Linked DNA regions of Homo sapiens. The protein of the gene in region 3 purifies or fractionates together with the protein of the main gene of each other region. This does not show direct contact. Each region holds a gene or a part of one and is shown on either strand. Other genes may lie near its edges.

What was found. Proteins that work in one complex are often made in the same cells at the same time.
Region 1: the proteins of RNF6 (region 3) and NT5E purify together in Homo sapiens (affinity purification with mass spectrometry, with the first as the bait; 2 studies listed by BioGRID). This does not show direct contact.
Region 2: the proteins of RNF6 (region 3) and ASAH1 purify together in Homo sapiens (affinity purification with mass spectrometry; one large-scale study listed by BioGRID and IntAct). This does not show direct contact.
Region 4: the proteins of RNF6 (region 3) and MYO1B purify together in Homo sapiens (affinity purification with mass spectrometry, with the first as the bait; one large-scale study listed by BioGRID). This does not show direct contact.

What each region holds. Positions count from the first base shown.
Region 1 is NC_000006.12:85,469,707-85,474,802, forward strand, and holds part of NT5E (5'-nucleotidase isoform 1 preproprotein), read left to right. Parts: intron 1-1,530; coding exon 1,531-1,719; intron 1,720-5,096. UniProt on the Homo sapiens protein: Catalyzes the hydrolysis of nucleotide monophosphates, releasing inorganic phosphate and the corresponding nucleoside, with AMP being the preferred substrate. Shows a preference for ribonucleotide monophosphates over their equivalent deoxyribose forms.
Region 2 is NC_000008.11:18,076,888-18,081,983, forward strand, and holds part of ASAH1 (acid ceramidase isoform a preproprotein), read right to left. Parts: intron 1-5,096. UniProt on the Homo sapiens protein: Lysosomal ceramidase that hydrolyzes sphingolipid ceramides into sphingosine and free fatty acids at acidic pH.
Region 3 is NC_000013.11:26,215,352-26,220,447, forward strand, and holds part of RNF6 (E3 ubiquitin-protein ligase RNF6), read right to left. Parts: intron 4,317-5,096; 5' UTR 4,299-4,316; coding exon 4,106-4,298; intron 3,256-4,105; coding exon 3,160-3,255; intron 242-3,159; coding exon 1-241. UniProt on the Homo sapiens protein: E3 ubiquitin-protein ligase mediating 'Lys-48'-linked polyubiquitination of LIMK1 and its subsequent targeting to the proteasome for degradation. Negatively regulates axonal outgrowth through regulation of the LIMK1 turnover.
Region 4 is NC_000002.12:191,415,528-191,420,623, reverse strand, and holds part of MYO1B (unconventional myosin-Ib), read right to left. Parts: intron 4,510-5,096; coding exon 4,382-4,509; intron 1-4,381. UniProt on the Homo sapiens protein: Motor protein that may participate in process critical to neuronal development and function such as cell migration, neurite outgrowth and vesicular transport.

The DNA of each region.
Region 1 (5,096 bases), on a different chromosome or scaffold from region 3:
ACTACAACTCTTGATTTTTCAACATTGCCTATGAGTTACAGACAGCCTTGCCTGTCCAACACATCTGTGAGCTGCTAATTATTAGGTTGTCATTCTGGGGCCTCCCTGGCTATGATGTCAGCCATGAATTATCTTCCATGGTAATTTGCACTTGTGGAGTTGGCTAATGTTAAGGATTCAGGAGTTCCCCTGCTGAAGCACACAGACATTCCTAAACCTCACAGTGGAACAAGGGATGCATTTCTAATAATCTTGTTACTCTTTGGATTAGTACTTTTCAAACTGGAGTTTGCAGACTCCTGCATTTTGAAAGCTTTTAATGAAATGTCATTCTCCCACCCTCCTTCCCTTGTTTAGTGTTAGTTCTTAGAAATCAGTGTAAGAACGTCTGGATCTACTGGAGGACTCCCTAGTCACAGAGTACCAGACATGACTTCAGGGCAGCATGTCTGTATTTGCAGTCATCTTCATGCCAGTGATAGCCATAAAACCTCAAAGCTTCCTCAAATGTGGCTAACAGAGCCAGTTGGAGGAACCAGTTGCCTTGCTGCACACAGAGAACCTGGGTTGCACAGTGAGAGCCATGCTTGACTACTGATAACAAAAGGCTATCGTTTGTTACCACTATGTGCAGTAATAAGCACCCAGGGAAGAATGTACACAATCCCAGTGCCAGCAACATTTAGATGAGGCCCTCATGATTAACACAGAGCTCAATAATGCTCTAATGCTGGCATTATTTATATATTTATATATTTTTTGAGGCAGAGTCTTGCTCTTGTTGCCCAGGCTGGAGTGCAGTGGTATGGTCTCGGCTCATTGCAGCCTCCGCCTGGCAGGTTCAAGACATTCTCCTGCCTCAGCCTTCCAAGTACCTGGCATGTGCCTCCACGCCTGAATAATTTTTGTATTTTTAGTAGAGACAGGGTTTCGCCATTTTGCCTGGGCTGGTCTCAAACTCCTGGCATCAAGTGATCTGCCTGCTGCAGCCTCCCAAAGTACTGAGATTACAAGCGTGAGCCACTGTGCCTGGCCTGCTGGCATTAAAGAGAACATGACAAAGTTATCAACTGCCATATTAAAATAGGCATTCAAGGACTACTTGCTGACAGTTTTAAGTTTGAACACTGATTATCCCAAGTTTCCAACGAACGTCTTGGAGTTGCTAATACTCTTTTGTGTATCATGCTTACGTGCTTAGGCATTTTCTGCATTGGTATTGTGGAAGTTGAGATGTACAAATATATAAAACAATATCTGAAGCCTCCTCACAGTTTGCAACCAAGTTCAAGCAAAACAATATCCACAACCTTAAACTAATACAACATAAAGTGAATGTAATGAGGATATTGATTTGAATTTTTATTTACTTCTTAGGGGTTTTGTATTTAATGAATAAATATGTTTTGGTTTTACTGACTCTTGAGCTTTAGTAAATTAAGGTGTTTAACCTTTGCATGTTAATATGTATATTAAGTAATATAATAAAAATTGTTAATAAATATCCATTTTATTTATTTTGTTCCTTAGGGACAAATTTAGTGTTTGAAGATGAAATCACTGCATTACAACCTGAAGTAGATAAGTTAAAAACTCTAAATGTGAACAAAATTATTGCACTGGGACATTCGGGTTTTGAAATGGATAAACTCATCGCTCAGAAAGTGAGGGGTGTGGACGTCGTGGTGGGAGGACACTCCAACACATTTCTTTACACAGGTAATTGTTTCAAAAGGATTGCATGGGCCAGGATGTCCAGATAAGCACTGTGTCTCTTTTGCCTTTGTAACTGTTATTACTCTTTTTACTGCTATTTAATATGTAATGTATATTATATGATCTATAATATATATGTAATATACATTAAATGGGAACATGTGCAAATCTTACAAACATTACTAAGAATTTATTGATTTCATGATTATAAGTCAATTCCATATATTTATGTATATAATAAATATATAAGACATAAAATATGTATAAAACATATATATACCATACATATGAAAAACAAAAAGACTATTGAGCCCCAACCAAGTCATTTATGATAGATTCTTATCAAAAAGCAACATGTCATATAAAAACTTTAAGCATAAACAAAATAATGTAAATAAGGACCTTTATAACTCAAGGTGGATTTGATTTGTAGGTTGCACAGGTAGCAGAGGCTGGACCTCGAGTGTGAGTCCTAACTCTGCTGCAGACTAGGAATATAAGTATCCTGGAAGCCACATGACCCTGGGTCCTCAGGAGAGCATGCACTCTTCCTACCCACTACCTGACTACCCCCACCACTCTCTTTTTTTCTCTCTCAAATTGGTGTTAAGTAGTTTTCATCAGAATAACTCTTTTATGATTTTTCCACTTTAAACCTATAATGTCCCAAAACTTTTGAATCTGGTTCCACCTTTCCCACTTCCCCCACCTTGCACTGCATAGATCTTTGAAGTATTCCCAAGGAAAGGAAGAAGAGGCTGGTAAACAGTTCTTCTATCAGCATTCGCAAAGAAGGCTTTGGCGTGGGAACAGCCCTCCCCTTGAAGAGGCTCCTGCTTCTACCATCCTTATGTGGGCTGTCAAAGACCATGCTATTTTGATAAAAGCGAAACTCAAAATACCCCAAACAATAAGTAGGAAATACCCAAAAACATTAAAAGGGATTATCACTAAGAAAGTAATTTTTATTTTCTTTCTAGTACTTTGGAGTATTTTCAAATAATGAATGCATGTTACTTTTGCAATCGGAAAGCAAAATATAAATTATAAAAAGGAAAGAAACACAATATTGGGTCAAAAGTCCCCATTCCTAATTCACTTGAATGACTTTGAGCAGGTCACTTAGCACCTCTGAATCTGCTAGCTTAGCTTCAAAATAGGGGATGATCATGCTCAAAGTTCCACGTTACTGTGAAAATTATATGAGATGTAAAAATATGTGAAAGCAGTTTATAAACTATAAATAGCTATATTCTGGTATGCAGCGTCATGGAGGTTGCCTGCTTATAAAAATATGTCAGTCAAAATCATAACTCACAAACTAAAGTTGGCCTTCACTTAAGAAAATACCAGTATGAATGTGTGCTAATTAAATTCCTTCACAGATATTTTACTTCTTGGTAAACACAGGCTAAGGAATAATTTCAAACTGAGTTAAACTGACAGGTTGTGAAATCAATTTATGGGTTATGACCAGTAGTAGGGCTTTTTTTTTTGACAGATAAGACTAAAATAGATTAGGCACTTACATTACTCATAAGAATGATAAATATTGTTCCATGGGAAAAGATGTATATAAGATGTCAAGAACAGCCCCAGGCACATAGCAGACAATCCATAAATGTGATGAGGATGACGACTAGCACTGGACATTGTTAGCATGGATAACATTGCAATCAAAGAGTTTCAACAACTCCATGAGGGTTAAATGAACTAAGAGAGCCAAGACGAGGAAATAATTGGAGCAGGTCACTGGGAAGCACTGGGTAGGGGTGAAGACTCAACAAAGTCCTTCTGACTCTACCACTAATGGTGGGGTCCTTTCAATGCCTGATTACCCTCATCTGTGGAATGAAGGTGATAACAACAGTACCTATTATAAGGGGTCACTGTGATTTAATATGTGTAATGAATGTATAGGTAAATGGCCTTAGCACAGGGCCTAGTATGTTAGCTGTTCTTATTTTAGTTATGTGCTGGCTCACTGGATAAGACCTGTGAAAACCCAAACCTTAGCTTTTCACTGAGGCAGTGTCAGCACCCTTGGACACACAGTGGGAGCTAGATATGTCTCCTCCCCCTTCTTCCTTTAGAATAATGGTTTCAAAAAGTTTAAACTATGACCCGTAGTAAGAAGAACATTTTAGACAGGGAGCCAAAACACACAAACATATATGTGTGTGTGCGTTCACATACGAACATGCAAAAGCACTTGTATGTGCAAACACATACAAGTGAAAGAAAACTTTCACAAAGCACATGGAATGCACCCCAACTTTTCTGTTTTACTGTTTTATTCACTTAATGCCAGCTACCACTCATTGAATTGATTTTCTTGTACTGTAGTTAATCCATGTTTCTAAAAACTCAGCTTTAAATGGGACGTGACCAAAATAATGCATGAACACTCAAAGGAGTTTCATCCCTTCATTCAGATGTGAACATTCCTGTGTTCCCCTTGACTTGTCTTTACACCATCTTAATCAATGCTGTCTTACAGCAACAATTAGTCATTCATAGCCTGTGGTTTGTGTCCATCAGTGAGTGTGCCCTGATAGACCTGAAAAGATTGGGAGACCATGCCCAGCTTCCCATTATTTCTGTAGCCTGTCCTTTGTTCCCATAACAGTACAGTCATGCCTTAGTATCTGTGGGGGATTGGTTCTAGAACTCCCTGTGGATACCAAAATCCATGGATGCTCAAGTCCCTTATATAAATGGTGTAGCATTTGCATATGACCTGTGCACATCCTCGCATATATTTTAAGTCATCTCTAGATTACTTATAATACTTGATACAATGTAAATGATATGTAAATAGTTGTTATACTGTATTGTTTAGGGAGCAAAGACAAGAAAAAATATATGTTCAGTACAGATAAAACCATCCTTTTTTAGAAAATAACTTTTTGTTCATGGCTGGCTGAATCCAACAATGCAAAACCCACAGTTAGAGACAGCCAACTGTATGTGCCTTTGCTAAGTAGATAAATTTAGTTAATGATGAAGGACTGGATGAAAGAAAGATTTGAGGATAAAAATTAGAGTTTGCTTATCTGTAAATCCTGAAGTAAATAATTACAGTCTCTGAGAAAACTGAGATAACTAATACTTAGTCATTTACTTCACATTTCATGATTGCTTACCAAGATTAAACTTGTTCTGATGAAAATCTTCACTTTTCATACTCATCGTTTTGATGAGTGAACTTAACAATTAAAGGTGGCTGGGCACAGCAGCTCATGCCTATAATCCCAGAATTTTGGGAGGCTGAGGCAGAAGAATTGCTTGAGCCCAGGAGTTCGAGACCGGCCTGGGCAAGATAGGGAGACCCCCATATCTACAAAAAAAATTTTTAAAAATTAGCCAAGTGTAGGGGC
Region 2 (5,096 bases), on a different chromosome or scaffold from region 3:
CAAATTTGCCTTACCACACTGTAAGTTTCTCACATATGTCTGGCTTTGTCTGGTAATTTTGCGTTGAATTCATTAAGAAACAATATCAAGTCTGTAGCAAAAGCTAATTTCCAAAGCCATTCGTGTTCAGTAATAGTGGCTGGGGGCAGCTCGTTTAGAAAAACTTCAGTCTCAACTGTGAACTCAAAGACTGCAAAACTTTACAGCTAGCAAGCTATCTAATGGCTCTGTCACAAGAGACATCAGGATATCCGGCCTCTATTTCTGATAATTCACAGAAATGATGACGGTTATATCCACAAGAGCAAATGAAGCTCATGGTTTATATTGCCGGTTCAATAACACATGTGAGATTCCAATATTTTCCACAAAATATCTGAAAAGGAATACTATAATAAATAACCATGAGCTTTAAACACCTCGCATGTTCACAAGTTTTGTGAATTTGCTCAACTCCGCCTTTTTCTACTCACAAATATTTTTACTACTGTCAATTTTTATAGATCTTAGCAGATTCCATTCCAGGTTATACTCAATCATTATTTTCTCAGCTTCTTCGAAAACATCCTCGCCTGTAGTTGTTTTATACAGATGATTCAGAGGCTAACTCTTCAGTCACTTCAAACTTGGCAATGATCATCTAATAAATATCAACAACTGATCAGTTATCGGTATGTTGACAGTCAAGAAAAATCACTCAAAAATCACATGCTTTGTTCTTTAATTGATATTGATGTTCTTCCCAAAGTCCAGGACAAGGGTTCTCAATGACATGTAAAATAATTTCATTTTCCCTGGACACAATACTTCTGCTACTACAATCGAATACAATTTAGGTAATCCACCATTGGTAAATGGCTTTCCTTATTTTGCTAATAAATGAGCTACTTAGAGACTTATAGGGGTTGCAACTTAATTTTACTTTGTAAAATTTGTAAATAAGTTCTGCTGTGAGGAGATACTCCGCTTTACATTTTCTTGTTTATCTGACCATTGTTTTCCTATGAGTTGGGAATACTGTGATGGGTACTTAACCCAAGTGCTTAATTTTATGATCATGTTGTGGACTTAAGACCCTGCTCCATTAGTGACTTGTAGAAAGTTACACAGCTGGTGACAGAATCAGAGTCAATGGCTTTCCCTGTTCTATCAAACAGCTTCCCACAGAGATAATAAAACCAATGCCTCAATTTAATTCCTAACAGAATAATCTGCGCGTAGTTCAGGGCTTCTGGTGATCACTAGAATCAACTCGGCAAATTAAGTGAAACGTAATGACTCCTATCCCTTCCTAATAATGACATTTGCACGCCCTGGGTTCCAAAGCCAAAATAAACATCAAATTACAGGCACATTTCTTACTAGACAACTGTGAGCAAAGTTGAAAATGCTCTGTCTAGTATTAGGAGAGAATGTGACCTGCCCCAGAGGTAAGAACTAAAGAGCAAGCTAGCAACAATACATGTGGAGTGAGTCTGAGGTTGATAACGACTCTTGGTAGCAATAAACAAACGTGAAATTGGCATAGAACCTGGCTGCAAGGAAATAGGATAAGTGTGACAGAAAATAAGAAAGTTGGCAGCTATGAGACTACAGTATTTCAGGGGCTCACATGGCATGAACGCCTAAGTCGTTTATGCAAAAAGGTTAGTTTTAGGGGTAGGGTGGAAAAAAGAGCTACTTCCTCCCCCTCAAAAAAGAATTCTACAGGGAGACACAGCTTCAAAACCCACGAGTAGCCCTAAAACAGAATTATAATGAACTTACTTAATGTTATTTAAAGTTCCTTACTATCCCCAAGTTTATAAACAGTTTAATAACAGACAACTCTATTAAGGCAGGTAAAAACTTAAATAGATGATAGGTAAAGATTAGAAACAGATGATAAGAAGAGAGATTATGTGGTCTGGATGGTATACTATGTACACCCTATCACAGGAAACAAAATCCAACTTAGAATCAATTCTCTCTAACCCTCTCCCCACAGTACCTCTCTTTCTCTCTCTCTCCCTGCCCTTCCCTACCTTTCTCCCTGCCCCTCAGTGGTCTCCTAAGAGTGAAGATAAGTGGTAAAAATCTGATATTTCAATGCATTTGAAACTCTCTGGGCCAGGCATGGTGGCTCATGCCTGTAATTCCAGCACCTTGGGAGGCTGAGGTGGGTGGATCACCTGAGGTCAGGACTTCAAGACCAGCCTGGCCAACATGGCGAAATCCCCGTTACTACTAACAATGCAAAAATTAGCTGGGTGGCATGTGCCTGTAATCCTAGGTACTCGGAAGGCTGAGGTAGGAGAATTGCCTGAAGCCGGGAGGTGGAAGTTGCAGTGAGACGAGATAGTGTGACTGCACTCCAGCCTGGGAGACAGAGCAAGACTCCATCTCAGAAAAAAAAAAAAAACAAAAAACTCTCTGGAAAGTGCTTTTAAAAGACTGTTTGGGTCAGAAAATTCTCTAATTTTTCTGGTTATTTGATAGAAACTTAAGCCTCTTTGAATGTCCTCCCCATTCATTAAGAGAAATTAATTACAGAGCTACTGAACACAACATTCTAAAAAAAACACAAAAATATAAAGAGAACATTAAGGTCTCAATGAAAGCGCCATACCCTTAAAAAATGGCATAACTTGTACAGCTCCTTAAAATATTTGAGCCCGAAAGAATTAGGAGACCCTCAATGAAATAATGTATGCTTCTAATAGTGAATTTTAAAAGTCCAGAAAGCCCTTGTGTGCTTGTCTTATTGAAATACTCAGAAAGAGACAATGAAGGATAATCTAAAATTACATACCTCATGTCAGTTTTCATACCCACCAGAAGCCAAACAACTCTAGCCAGACAATTTTTCATTCATTCAATTCTTGAATTCATCAACAACTATTTTGCAGACAAGTTTTTCCTATAATGTCCTCTTATGTACAACTCAGCAGAAACACTGAATACAAAGAGGCATGTTTCCTACGTGTACAAGAATTCACATGAGCTTGAAAATGTTTTCACTTGTCTTCTGGGCTTTGATGGGATGGCATCCTATTAAGCTACTGATATTTAGGTCAAAGGAATGTGAATAAACCCTCCATGAGAGGAAGGACCTCATCTATCTCATTGGCTGACGCATTCCCAGCGTTTAGGAGTCTGGCACATAGTAGGCAAGCAGTATTTGTTGAATAAGTGAATGGATTACACCTGTGTGTTCCCTCTTTGGGAGAAGTAGGGAAAAGCAGATGAAGTGCAATAAATTCCTAGGCCAGATGGGGTCTATGAGATTTCTGGCAACTGCGTGAAAATCATTGCTAAAGCTGATTCAATAGCTAATGTCAACAATGTTGACATACGCTGTTAACTAGTATGAGAAGCTGATGCATAAAAATGAGTTTACAAGTTTACTTTGGCAATTAATTACTAAGCCATTACGTTTCATCTTCGCACATCTTATGAAGTGGGTCAGATTTATTACGCAGAGCAGCCATCTCTCCCCTCTAGTTCCTTTCCTGCCAATCACACTTAGCCTACCGCAAGCTGTTTTCTGCCCCCAACACTGCTCCAGTCGAGGTGACCAATGACCTCCAGTTGCCCAACATCATAATACCACTGACATCTCAATAATATTCAACATAGTTAACCTGTCCCAGTCTCTTCCCTGAGCTTCCTGTTCCACTTACTCTCCTATTTTTTTGTTTTTGTTTTCTGTGACGAAGTTTCGCTCATTGTCCAGGCTGGAGTGCAATGGCAGGATCTTGGCTCACTGCAACCTCTCCCTCCCAGGTTCAAGCAATTCTCCCGCCTCAGCCTCCTGAGTAGCTGGGACTACAGGCGTGAGCCACTATGCCCAGCTAATTTTTGTATTTTTAGTAGAGACAGGGTTTCTCCATGTTGGCCAGGCTAGTCTCAAACTCCTGACCTCACGTGATCTGCCCACCTTGGCCTCCCAAAGTGCTGGGATTACAGGCATGAGCCACCGCGCCCGGCCTGTCCTGTTTTAACTTTGGCAATTTCTCCTCTTCTTGACACATACATGTGCAAGTTACTTAGCCTTTGCCTAGTTCTCTTTTCTTCTCTTTCTCTATCCTATTTCTAGGTAAGTTCATCTGCTCCAAGGGCTTCAAATATAATATCATTATGCCAGTGACTCTCAGTGTCTCTCTTCTGAGTGCCAGTCCGAGTGGCCTGCTGGATGCCTCTCTGCCACCTGAAATTTAACATACACCCCAAATGAAAACGATCCTCATTCTTTAGCCCCCAAGCTTTCCCCTCCCCATGTTTCCTGGAACGGATGCCACCATTCGCCCAGCGAAGCACTTCAGCAATGTGCAGGTCACGCTGACACCTCACTCCCTCATCCTCACCCAACGATTCCTTCAGCTCATTCGCCCTCCTGATTTTTTTCTAGAACATCTACTTCTCTCCCTCACCCCTGGCGCCACCATCCTTCAACGCACCCTGTTTTCTTTTCTGGACTAGTCTCCTCATATCTACCCTTGCTGACCTCCAATCCAGACTCATCTTTTTAAAGTGAAAATGTTATCTTGTCTAAAACCATCTAATGGCCTCCCATTGGCTGGTTCCAGATCCTCCCATTTTTTAGGATAAATTTCTGAATCCTTAATAAGAGTCTACAGAACCCTGGATGATGTCATCTGGCGCTATCTCTCCAGACATTTCTTGTGCCACTGTCTTCACCATCATCTCTTAATAGACTCCTAAAAAATTCAATAATGAAGAATAACTCAGGAGGACCTTCACATAGGAATATTGTGAAAAGCCTCAAAAACAAACACACAAAAAATCCTTACAGATGTTCTAAATCAAATGACTTGTTTCCAATTTAAAGCTGCTTCTCATTATTCATATTTATTGAAAGTACTTTTGAAATATCTTTTGTTACCATGAGGCTATAGTTTATCATATAATGACTCCAGTTGAAAAACTGCTTATTCTTCTCAGAGAATGAAGTCACTAAACTTCTGTAAGGTTCTAAAGGTCCTTCAGTGCATGGATCCCAGGATTTTCCAGGCCAGTAAAAAAAAATTAATGAGGCCTTGGCACAGGAGGGTCCAAATTTTTATTCTGCCAAATGGAGATGTTAAAACAAAACA
Region 3 (5,096 bases):
CTATCTGAAAGTGGAATGTCTGTATAATCTTCTCCATGAATTTCAAATCCTCTATTTTCATGATTTACGTGGATTTCCAAACTAAACCGAAACTCTCCATTGTTCGGGTTTGTTCGACTCACAGCTCTCCAAGTTTGGTTCCCATTTTGTCCACTTCGAGTTGCATTTCCTGTGCGCCGAAAGGTGTTCAACCATTCTAGAAGAGAATCTTCATGTGAACTTTCTCTAGGGACTTCTGAGTCTAGAAAGCAAAGCAAATCAACTTAAGATCAATTCCTAAGACACACCTTACAGCTTTATTGAAAACTTGTAAGAAAAACAAAGTTTGTAATAAATTAAAGAACATCTGTGGATTTTAATGAATGAAAGATGGCAAAAAGACAACTTTCTAAAAGAAAAGTATATCTACTATAAGCATATTATAAAAATTAAATTACTATTTACATAGTTACAAAGCTTTAAATACTATTTATGCAACGCTATGGAGAAATCCTCATTCTTACTTTCTATCTGCCCATTACTAGCAAAATACTAAGGCAAATGAGAAACATGTCCACTACCAAAAGTTTACATTTAAATTGCTTTATCAATATAGTAATATCAATAAAATACAAAGACAAACTTTATGTAAAATTTGTCCTGTATTTGTGGAATCTTTCTGGAAAAGCCAACTCAGTCATTTTTGCAACTAGGTATTTCTGTAATCTTAGAAATTTTTCCTATTTCTCAGGTGCTGCCAAAAATGTACACATCAAGAAATGTGAGTTTCTGAATATAACATTAAAACCACATTACTGTATTTGTCTTTGTGTGAAGCTGAGAAACCAGGCAAGTTACTTAAGGTCTCTATGGCTGATCCTTGTCTATAAACTGGAGTTAATAATAGAATCAATCTCATAGGGTTATCCTGAGGATAAAATAAGACGCTATATATAACATAATTAGCATAATATCTGGCACATAAAAAGCCACCCCATAAATGTTAGCTGTTATACATAATAAAATACATTTTCTATTCATTTAGAACGTAAGCTCCAGGAAAACAAAGATTTTTGTAGTTTTAGTCACTGTTACATCTCCAGCCTCTACAGCAGTATCTAGTATAAATCAGACTTTCAATTAATATTGCTCAATTAATCAATTTAGAAATGTGTCACCCATAAACTTTTTTGACTAAGATACTGCCACTGTGCCAAGCTTAAATTTTCCATTTATAACCAGTAGATATTATATAAAGTACAAAACTTAATAAAAAGCATCAACACATTAACTACACAAACTTCAACTTTAAAGTTTGTTCTACTCAAAAATAGCTATTATAGGCCGGGCGCGGTGGCTCACACCTGTAATCCCAGCACTTTGGGAGGCCAAGGCAGGCAGATCATGAAGTCAGGAGTTCGAGACCAGCCTGACTGACATGGTAAAAACCTGTCTCTCCTAAAAATACAAAGAAATTAGCCAGGCATGGTGGCGTGCGCCTGTAATCCCAGCTACTCAGGAGGCTGAGGCAGGAGAATTGCTTGAACCCGGGAGGCAGAGGTTGCAGTGAGCCAAGATTGTGCCACTGTACTACAGCCTGGGTGACAGAACAGGACTCTGTCTCAAAAAATAAATAAACAAATAAATAAAATAGCTATTATATGACATCATTCTGATTTCATTTCATTCCTGCAATCTCTCTCGTAAGACTTTTTTAAATGCTGAAGTTGAAGCTATTAATCAGCTGTTGATGCCAATAAAATAAACAGCAACTGAGCCATATTCCAGAGATGATGAGCTATTTTATATTTGATGAGTACATTTTCCACTGAAACATATTCAAAAGATCAGTATTAATTATTGCATCTATATAGTACAACTTACATATCTAAACACAAATAATAAAATGTGTTAATGTCCACTTCCCATTTGTTTGGAAAAAGAATGAGTAAAAGGCAGGTGAACATGAATTATTTTAAATGCTACTTCCTTCTTTGATTAACATTTGATTAAGTGTAGTGATGATGGTGCATGTGAAAGAGTTTGCCAAGTACCTACTCAAAGCTACCCTACTCTTCTTCCATTGTAAAAGCATCGGAAATTGGCTCGTGGACAGCCTGGCAGTTAGGTGTGACCATGAGACTAAGTTCTCATGAATGGAATGGGAGAGTAAGCGATACATCCTACTCTCACGCTAGTGCGTGGACCTCCTTCCTACCAGCTAGAACCTAGATATGGTTGCGACTTACCTTGATCATACAAATGGTACCCTGGAGCAGTGATGCCCCATAAATCTTTCTGAAGTAATGAGTATGTTCTGTATTTGTGCTGTCCAATACAGAAGCCACTAGCCAAATGTGACTATTAAGCACCTGAATGTGGCTAGTATGAATGAGCTAAATTTTAAATTTAATTTGATTTTAATTAATTTCCATTTAAATAGTCACATGTGGCTAGCAGCTACTGTACTGAACAGCACAGTTGTAGAATCATTCTGTTAGCTGAGTGGGTTCCAAGAGGATTTCCTTCCCTGGACTGTTAACGTAAGTAAGAAACTTCTAGCTTATTGAGCCATTGCATTTTGGGGTTTTTACATAGACTTCATGGTAACTAATACAATGATTTTGATATAATATGTGAAACTACTAATAAATACCTCTGAGGAGGGAAGTAGAACTGGTTAAGAGGAACACAAAAGTGGCTTTTCCTTTTAACTCTACATACTTCATTTAGTTTGAAGTTCTTTTATAGTACTTTCCTTATAAGAACTTTTTATATGTAAACCATCAAACAGAACAAAGAAACAAAAACAGGTTTCCTAACTCAGTCTTTCTACACGGTTCTGTATATAAATTTTTAGAAGCTAAGTAATATCACTTTAGAAAAAGTAATGTGTACATTCCAAGATTAAAAAGAAGCATGCTGGGAATTAACTTAATTGTATATTATTACATAAAGCTCTCTGAAGGCAATCTGTGTGTTTAAGACATCTTTGCATTCATTCCTCTGTCCTATACTGCTTAACCATACTGCTTTACTACTCATATATATATTATCTGAATGAGTATCACATTAAAACTGGAAAAAATTGAAGACAAACATACTATACAAGGTCTAAGAATTTCATTTCTGCAAGTGCTCCAATCAAGCCTGTTCCTTATGGAAAGGACTCCATAGTACCTCTGTAATTCGTTCCATCTCTCAAGTCAGGCTGAGATGCTAGTTGTTCCTTGACGCCATCTAACCGCTGTTGCAGTTCTTCTGATGTTATTTCTCCTAAAACAATGAAAAACTGCTCATTTAAGAATTCTGAATTAAGTTTTATGAGACCTCATGAAGGGTAAGACTAATCTTTAGTAACCTATAGAAGACAAATGTCTTATTACTTTCATATGTTCTGTAAATTGAAGACAGTTAAAAATATTCAACTGGTACAAATGTGCATCAATTCGGTTGTGCTTCATTTATTAATCTTTTATTAAAAATTATTAAAATAAGATTTAATTTGAATAGTTGGTAAAGTGCTGCCAGTTGATACACTTAGGAATCTATAAGCTATAACTGTGGATTTTTGTCAGTTAAAAAGAAATTAAGGGAGCATTTATAGAGAAAACTTCAAATATTTACTTGAATTTTATCCCAAATACTTCATTATATGGGTCATCAATATACAAACACACAATATATAAACATACAAATTTCCATTAGTTCATTTGTAAAAACTTTATGGAACACATTGGGCTTTGGGGGGAGCTATTAATTCAGCTGAATAAATAAATTATAATACCCCAAATGAGTTCAAATTGGGTTTTAAGTCATATTTTATTTGTATAAAAATTACAAATAGGACCATATATGTAAATACTTAACACCATTATGTACATTAACCTGTTTCTTAGTTTGGCATTTGTATAATAGTGCTCCATGTCCCCTATTTTCACCTTATAAAATACAGAAGCCAGTGATTTTCTACTTTATTATACTAAAAAGTTCTTAAACTCACAAAAACAATATACTATATTTTCATAAAGAGAAGCAAGGAAAAAGAATACCAATTCTCCTTATCTTGAAATCCTTCCATCTAAATGATGAAAAAAGGGTGTTTCCTCTTTTACCCATCTCTTACCAGGGGTGCCTAAAAGATTATGGTCTCTCATAAGCCGATAATCTTCATCATTGAGTTCATTAATAAACTGATAATAGGCCTCTTCTCTGTGGAGACGCTCTTGCTGCCATCTTCTCTCATTTTCATGATGATTATGGTCTTGAGGTAAGGTTTCTTCACTGCCACCATCTGATCTCGATCTAGACTGATTCATCCTGAGATTCCTGGCTTTCTGTTCAAACAATATAAACAACATTCAAGGTGTTAAGTCATGGACCACATTTGGCTTTGTATTTTTAACTTGCAGTTTTTCTTAATTTTTAAATGTTGTCCCCTACCCAAATACTGTATTTGCCAAATCTTGCAGTGAGAAGCTTACATATAAAATGAAAAACAGCTTCTAGGAAATACAACACAATTGGCACTTACTTCTTTGCCTAAAGCCATTAAGTCAGACTGGATTTGGGTTTACCACACAATGCTCATGCCTGAATACCATAGTGATTATCTCATTTTTGACCATGTTGACGATCTGGAAAAGTTGATCCAGAAGTCCTCATTTATGTTTCAGGATCTGGGTACTTCACATTAATTACAAATTTTAGGCTTGAATTATGCACATTCTTCACTTAATGAGCAAAGGGATACTGGGATGATATAATTTACATTTGTTTTCAGCAAGGTATTCTTTCCAAAATAAGGCTCATGAATGTAATATTATCCCCCACTGCACTTTGATGAGGTGAAAATCATTTAGCCTAATTAATATCTACTGAACAAACTGGAAGGTGGTCTCTTATTAAAGCTTACCAGGAAGACTTTGAAACCCAACAGGAAACAAGACATCATGTATGGCTCAAGGATTGTGAAAGTGCATCAGAGCACTTTGTATCACCCCATATCAAGCCTCATCCTTAAGCCTGGAATGGTTAGTCCCAGGAGTTTCAGAATGCCAGTGAAACTTCCTGACTTTGCCTAAGAAACCACTATTTTTGGATTATATTTAAGTGTC
Region 4 (5,096 bases), on a different chromosome or scaffold from region 3:
TCTGAGAAATGCATCACTAGGTGATTTTGTCATTGTGCAAACATCATAGAGTGAGTGCATTTACCCAAACCTAGATGCTACAGCGTGTTATTGTACTGTAGGTAACTGTAACACAATGGTATTTGTATGTGTAAACTTAGTAAGAATAGAAAAGGTACAGTAAGAATAGCATAAAAGATAAAAAATAGTGTACTTGTCTAGCGCCCTTACCATGAATGGGGCTTGCAGGCCTGGAAGTAGCTCTGGGTGAGTCAGTGAGTGAGTTGTTAGTGAATGTGAAGGCCTAGGACATTACATTACGGTATACTTTATAGGTAATTTTTTCTTTCTTCAATAATAAATTAACCTTTGCTTACTGTAACTTTTTGCTTTATAAACTTTACAATTTTAAAAACATTTTTGACACTTTTGTTTTGTTTTTGAGGCAGGGTCTTGGTCTGTCTCCCAGGCTGGAGTTCACTGGAGCAATCATGGCTCAGGGCAGCCTTGACCTTCCCGGGCTCAGATGATTCTCCCACCTCAGCCTCCTGAGAAGCTGGGACTACAGGTGTGTGTCACCATGGCTGGCTAATTTTTTAATTTTTTTGTTGAGAAGGGGTTTCGTCATGTCGCCCAGGCTGGTATTGAACTCCTAAGCTCAAGCAATCCACCAGCCTTGGCCTCCCAAAGTGCCAAGATTACAGGCGTGAGCCACTGGGCCCGGCTGTTTTTTGGCTCTTTTGTAATAACACTTAGCTTAAAACACAATACTTTGTATAGCTGTACAAAAATATTTTCTTTATAACCTTATTCTATAAGCTTTTCTCTATTTTTAAAATTTTAATTTTTTTTATTTTTACTTTTTAAACTTTTTGTTAAAAACTAAGATACAAACATATTAGCCTAGGCCTACACAGGGTCAGGAGCATCAATTTCACTGTCTTCTATCTCCATGTCTTGTCCCACTGGAAAGTCTTCAGGGGTAATAATACACATGGGGCTGTCTTCTCCTAAGATAACAATGCCTTCTGAAATACCCCCTTAAGGACCTGCCCGAGGCTGTTTTACTATTAACTTTTTTAACATGTAGGCATACACGCTAAAATAAAGATAAAAAGTACAGTATAGGCCGGGCGTGGTGGCTCACGCCTATAATCCCAGCACTTTGGGAGGCTGAGGCGGGCAGATCACAAGGTCAGGAGATCGAGACCATCCTGGCTAACACGATGAAACCCCACCTCTACTAAAAGTACAAAAAATTAGCCGGGCGTGGTGGCGGGCAGCTGTAGTCCCAGCTACTCGGGAGGCTGAGGCAGGAGAATGGCATGAACCCAGGAGGCGGAGCTTGCAGTGAGCCGAGATCACGCCACTGCACTCCAGCCTGGGCAACAGTGCAAGACTGAGTCTCAAAAAAAAAAAAGTATAGTATAATAAATACATAAACCAGTAACAACATCATTTATTATCAAGAGTTACATATTGTACATAATTGTATGTGCTTTTACTTGTAGACAACTGGCAGTGAAGTAGGTTTGTTTACACCAGCAGCAGCACAAACATGTGAGTAGTGCCTTGCACTATAACATTACAACACCTGTGACATCAATAGACAGAAGAATTTTTCAGCTCCATTACAATCTTAGGGGACCACCGTCATCTGTGCAATCCATTGCTGACCAAAATGTCATTATGTGGTGCATAACTGCATTACACATCTTGCAGGTTATCCTTAAAATGCAATCTAGTTACACATTGAACAGCTTAGAAGTTTAAGGACTAGAAACTATAAGGCAGCTGAATCTCTGAATGAATTCAATTCTCACTTCTATATGTACAAGTTTAAATTCCACTGAACAGGCTGGGCGCGGTGGCTCACGCCTGTAATCCCAGCACTTTCAGAGGCCCAGGGGGGCGGATCACCTGAGGTCAGGAGTTCGAGACCAGCCTGACCAACATGGAGAAACCCCATCTCTACTAAAAATACAAAATTAGCCAGGCGTGGTGGTGCATGCCTGTAATCCCAGCTACTCAAGAGGCTGAGGCAGAATAATCCCTTGAACCCGGGAGGCGGAGGTTGCGGTGAGCCAAGATCGTGCCACTGCACTCCAGCCTTGGCAACAAGAGCGAAACTCTGCCTCAAAAAAAAAAAAAAAAAAAAAAAATCCACTAAAGAGTAAACAGGACTTTGACTCTCTTTCCATAAACTGACATCCACTTATCCATAATGATTACAGAATCTAGGTTTGTTAGAGTAACTACTTCTACTTCTGGGAAGGAAAAAGCAAGGAAGGGCTTAGTCACTAAACTGCATGTGGTTTTCAACACTGGTTCTATAGAGCTAGCGAAGCCACTTAGGGCTGACACATAAAGGAACAGGCGCCCCTGCCTATGACTTTGGACATTTTCGTTTAAATTCAAAATGCTCCCTAAGGAGATTTACGATCCTTACCTACAAACTTCCTCTGCAGGCTTCCTGTGCCACCTGGGGAAGGGACCCACGGGTGCTATGTAGAGTCCTATGAACTGTTTTATTTTTATGAGACCAATCAATAATTAGGCACTGGAGAATGAAAGGCATTATAATGCTACCCAATGTTTGTTTTCTTCATGTGGCCACATTATAAATCTTCGCTCAGACAACTGTTTACTGAAAGCTTATGGCATCCAGAACATCACACGCCCTCTGTGACAGGGCAGGGCCCTTGCTGCCCAGAAGCGAACTGTCCCCCTTTCCCAGATGGCACACCTTCGAACACAAGCTGTGAGAGCTGCTGAAGGAGCTCTGTGGTTGACTATGTTTAGGATTCACGCCACACGCTATCCCCGCAAAGCTCCTCAGGAGAATCACAACAAGATTTCAGGGACTCTGAGATGTAATGTAGTGAAGAAAGATTTTAAATTTCCATCAGAGAACAATTTTTTCACAGTACATCGTTATTAGCATCCTGTACAAGCAATGTTCCTAGAATCCCGGTTTGGGAAATGCTTAAAAATAGCAGTACTTTGTGGTCTGGATGTTGGTGTGATTTCCTTTCTGTGTAAAGATGAGTTTATTCACATAGTGGGACAACTATGAGACTGCTTCGTCTGTACACTGAGGAGCTTCTGCTGTCTGGGATACATACGATCTTCCCATGGTGAGTGAGAATTAGCAGCCCCACCAAAGCCCATTCTCCCAGATTATGAAAAACTTCAACTATTATAAAGGGATTTTAAAGCTCTAATAGGCCCTAACGTGTTAAATCCTTAACTGAAACACACCAACCATTATTTTTTTCCTAATTTCTTTATGAGAAAGATCTCATTAACAAGAAAAGTTATTTAGTCCGAACAGCAATTTCCAATATAGAGTATACATGAAGCCCAACCTCCCACCCAAATCTAAACACTTCAATGAGAACTTAAGAAAAGCCCACAGCACTGCAAAATCCTAACATATCAAAGAGAGTCTGACTTACAAAGGGGCAGAAATGGGTGTAAATTTATTTTAGAAAGACTTTTAGGAAGAGTTGAAACAGAATAGACTAGAAAATTCTTAATTAGAAAAGAATATAATTTCCTGAGCAATCTAGACATGCAAAGAAGTATATAAGCAGGTAAACAATCTATTGAAAGGTAACCAATTAAGTATAATCAACACAGTAACTCAGATTTCTCCAAAACACTTACATAGATAGATACAATAAATCTGGGGATGCCCCAACCTGTATGCAAATAACTAACTTCTATATTCAGAACCCTAATGAGAAATTGAAGAAGCAAATTTCAAATTTATACCAGTCTCAGATGTCACCACATCAAAGAGGCCTCCCTGACTCTTTTTTTTTTTCTGAGACGGAGTCTCACACTGTCACCCAGGCTGGATTGCGGTGGCACGATCTCGGCTCATTGCAATCTCCGCCTCCCGGGTTCAAGAGATTCTCCTGCCTCAGCCTCTTGAGTAGCTGGGATTACATGCGCCCGCCACCACGCCCAGCTAATTTTTTTTGTATTTTAAGTAGAGACGGTTTCACCATGTTGGCCAGGCTGGTCTCGAACTCCTGACCTCGTGATTCGCCTGCCTCGGCCTCCCAAAGTGCTGGGATTACAGGCGTGAGCCACTGCGCCTGGCCTACTCTCTGACTCTTAACCCTTTTTTTCCTCCATAAACACTTGTTAGCCAAAATCTTATCAACTATTTCATCATTTTATTTGTACATACTGGTCTCTTCCACTAGGATGTCAGGTACATGAGGTTGGAGACTTGGTCAGTGTCATTCACTGCCCATTTATCATGTGGAACAACTACTAGACACATACCTGGTACTTAATAAGTAGTTGTATTAATGAATGAGATCGAGAGCTGAACTAAAACAAAAAAGCTGAAAGAGAAAAAGGGTTTTCAAACAATACATGAACGTACTCATCGGAAATCTCAATATTGAGCTTCTGTTTGGTTTGGCTGAGAGTTGTGCGATAGAGCTTGGTGGCCATTTCAATCAGGTGATCACTGCTGAAGAGAAAGTCTCCTTTACTAGCTGCTTCTGAGCCCTGCAAGGACAAACCAAGAGTCGGTCATAATTAAAGATACCTTAGAAGGTCAATATTTACAGGCTTGGCTAAAAACATACTTACAGTCTCTTTAAAACATCAGATCCTGGAATCCATTCTCCCAAGGTAAACAATAATGACAAAAGCAGTGTTTCTTCCAACTTGCTCAGAGCACTTTAGTAAGGTTACCTAATCCCCTTCTACCTAAAGTCGGTGGATGCAGCAGAAGCACCATGTGCATCACTTGGAGCTTGCTAGAAAAGCAGAATCTCAGGCCCTACCACAGCCCCAGTGAATATGAAACCACAACGCAACCTCCAGGTATGGGTTTACACATTCAGGTTTGAGGAGCATGGACCTATCCCGCAACTCTTCTGAAGGACTTGATTAAAAAACTTTTCAGTGATTTGGTTAAAACCCTAATGACAACACTTCCAACAAATATCCTAGGGCAGTGGCTCTCAGCCTTAGCTGTGCAAGGGAATCATCTGGGTTTATTCAAAAAAAAAACAAAACAAAACAAAAAAAAAAACATGATGCTTGTGCCCCCTCTGAGAAATTCTAATTTGATTTCATAGGGGTATGGC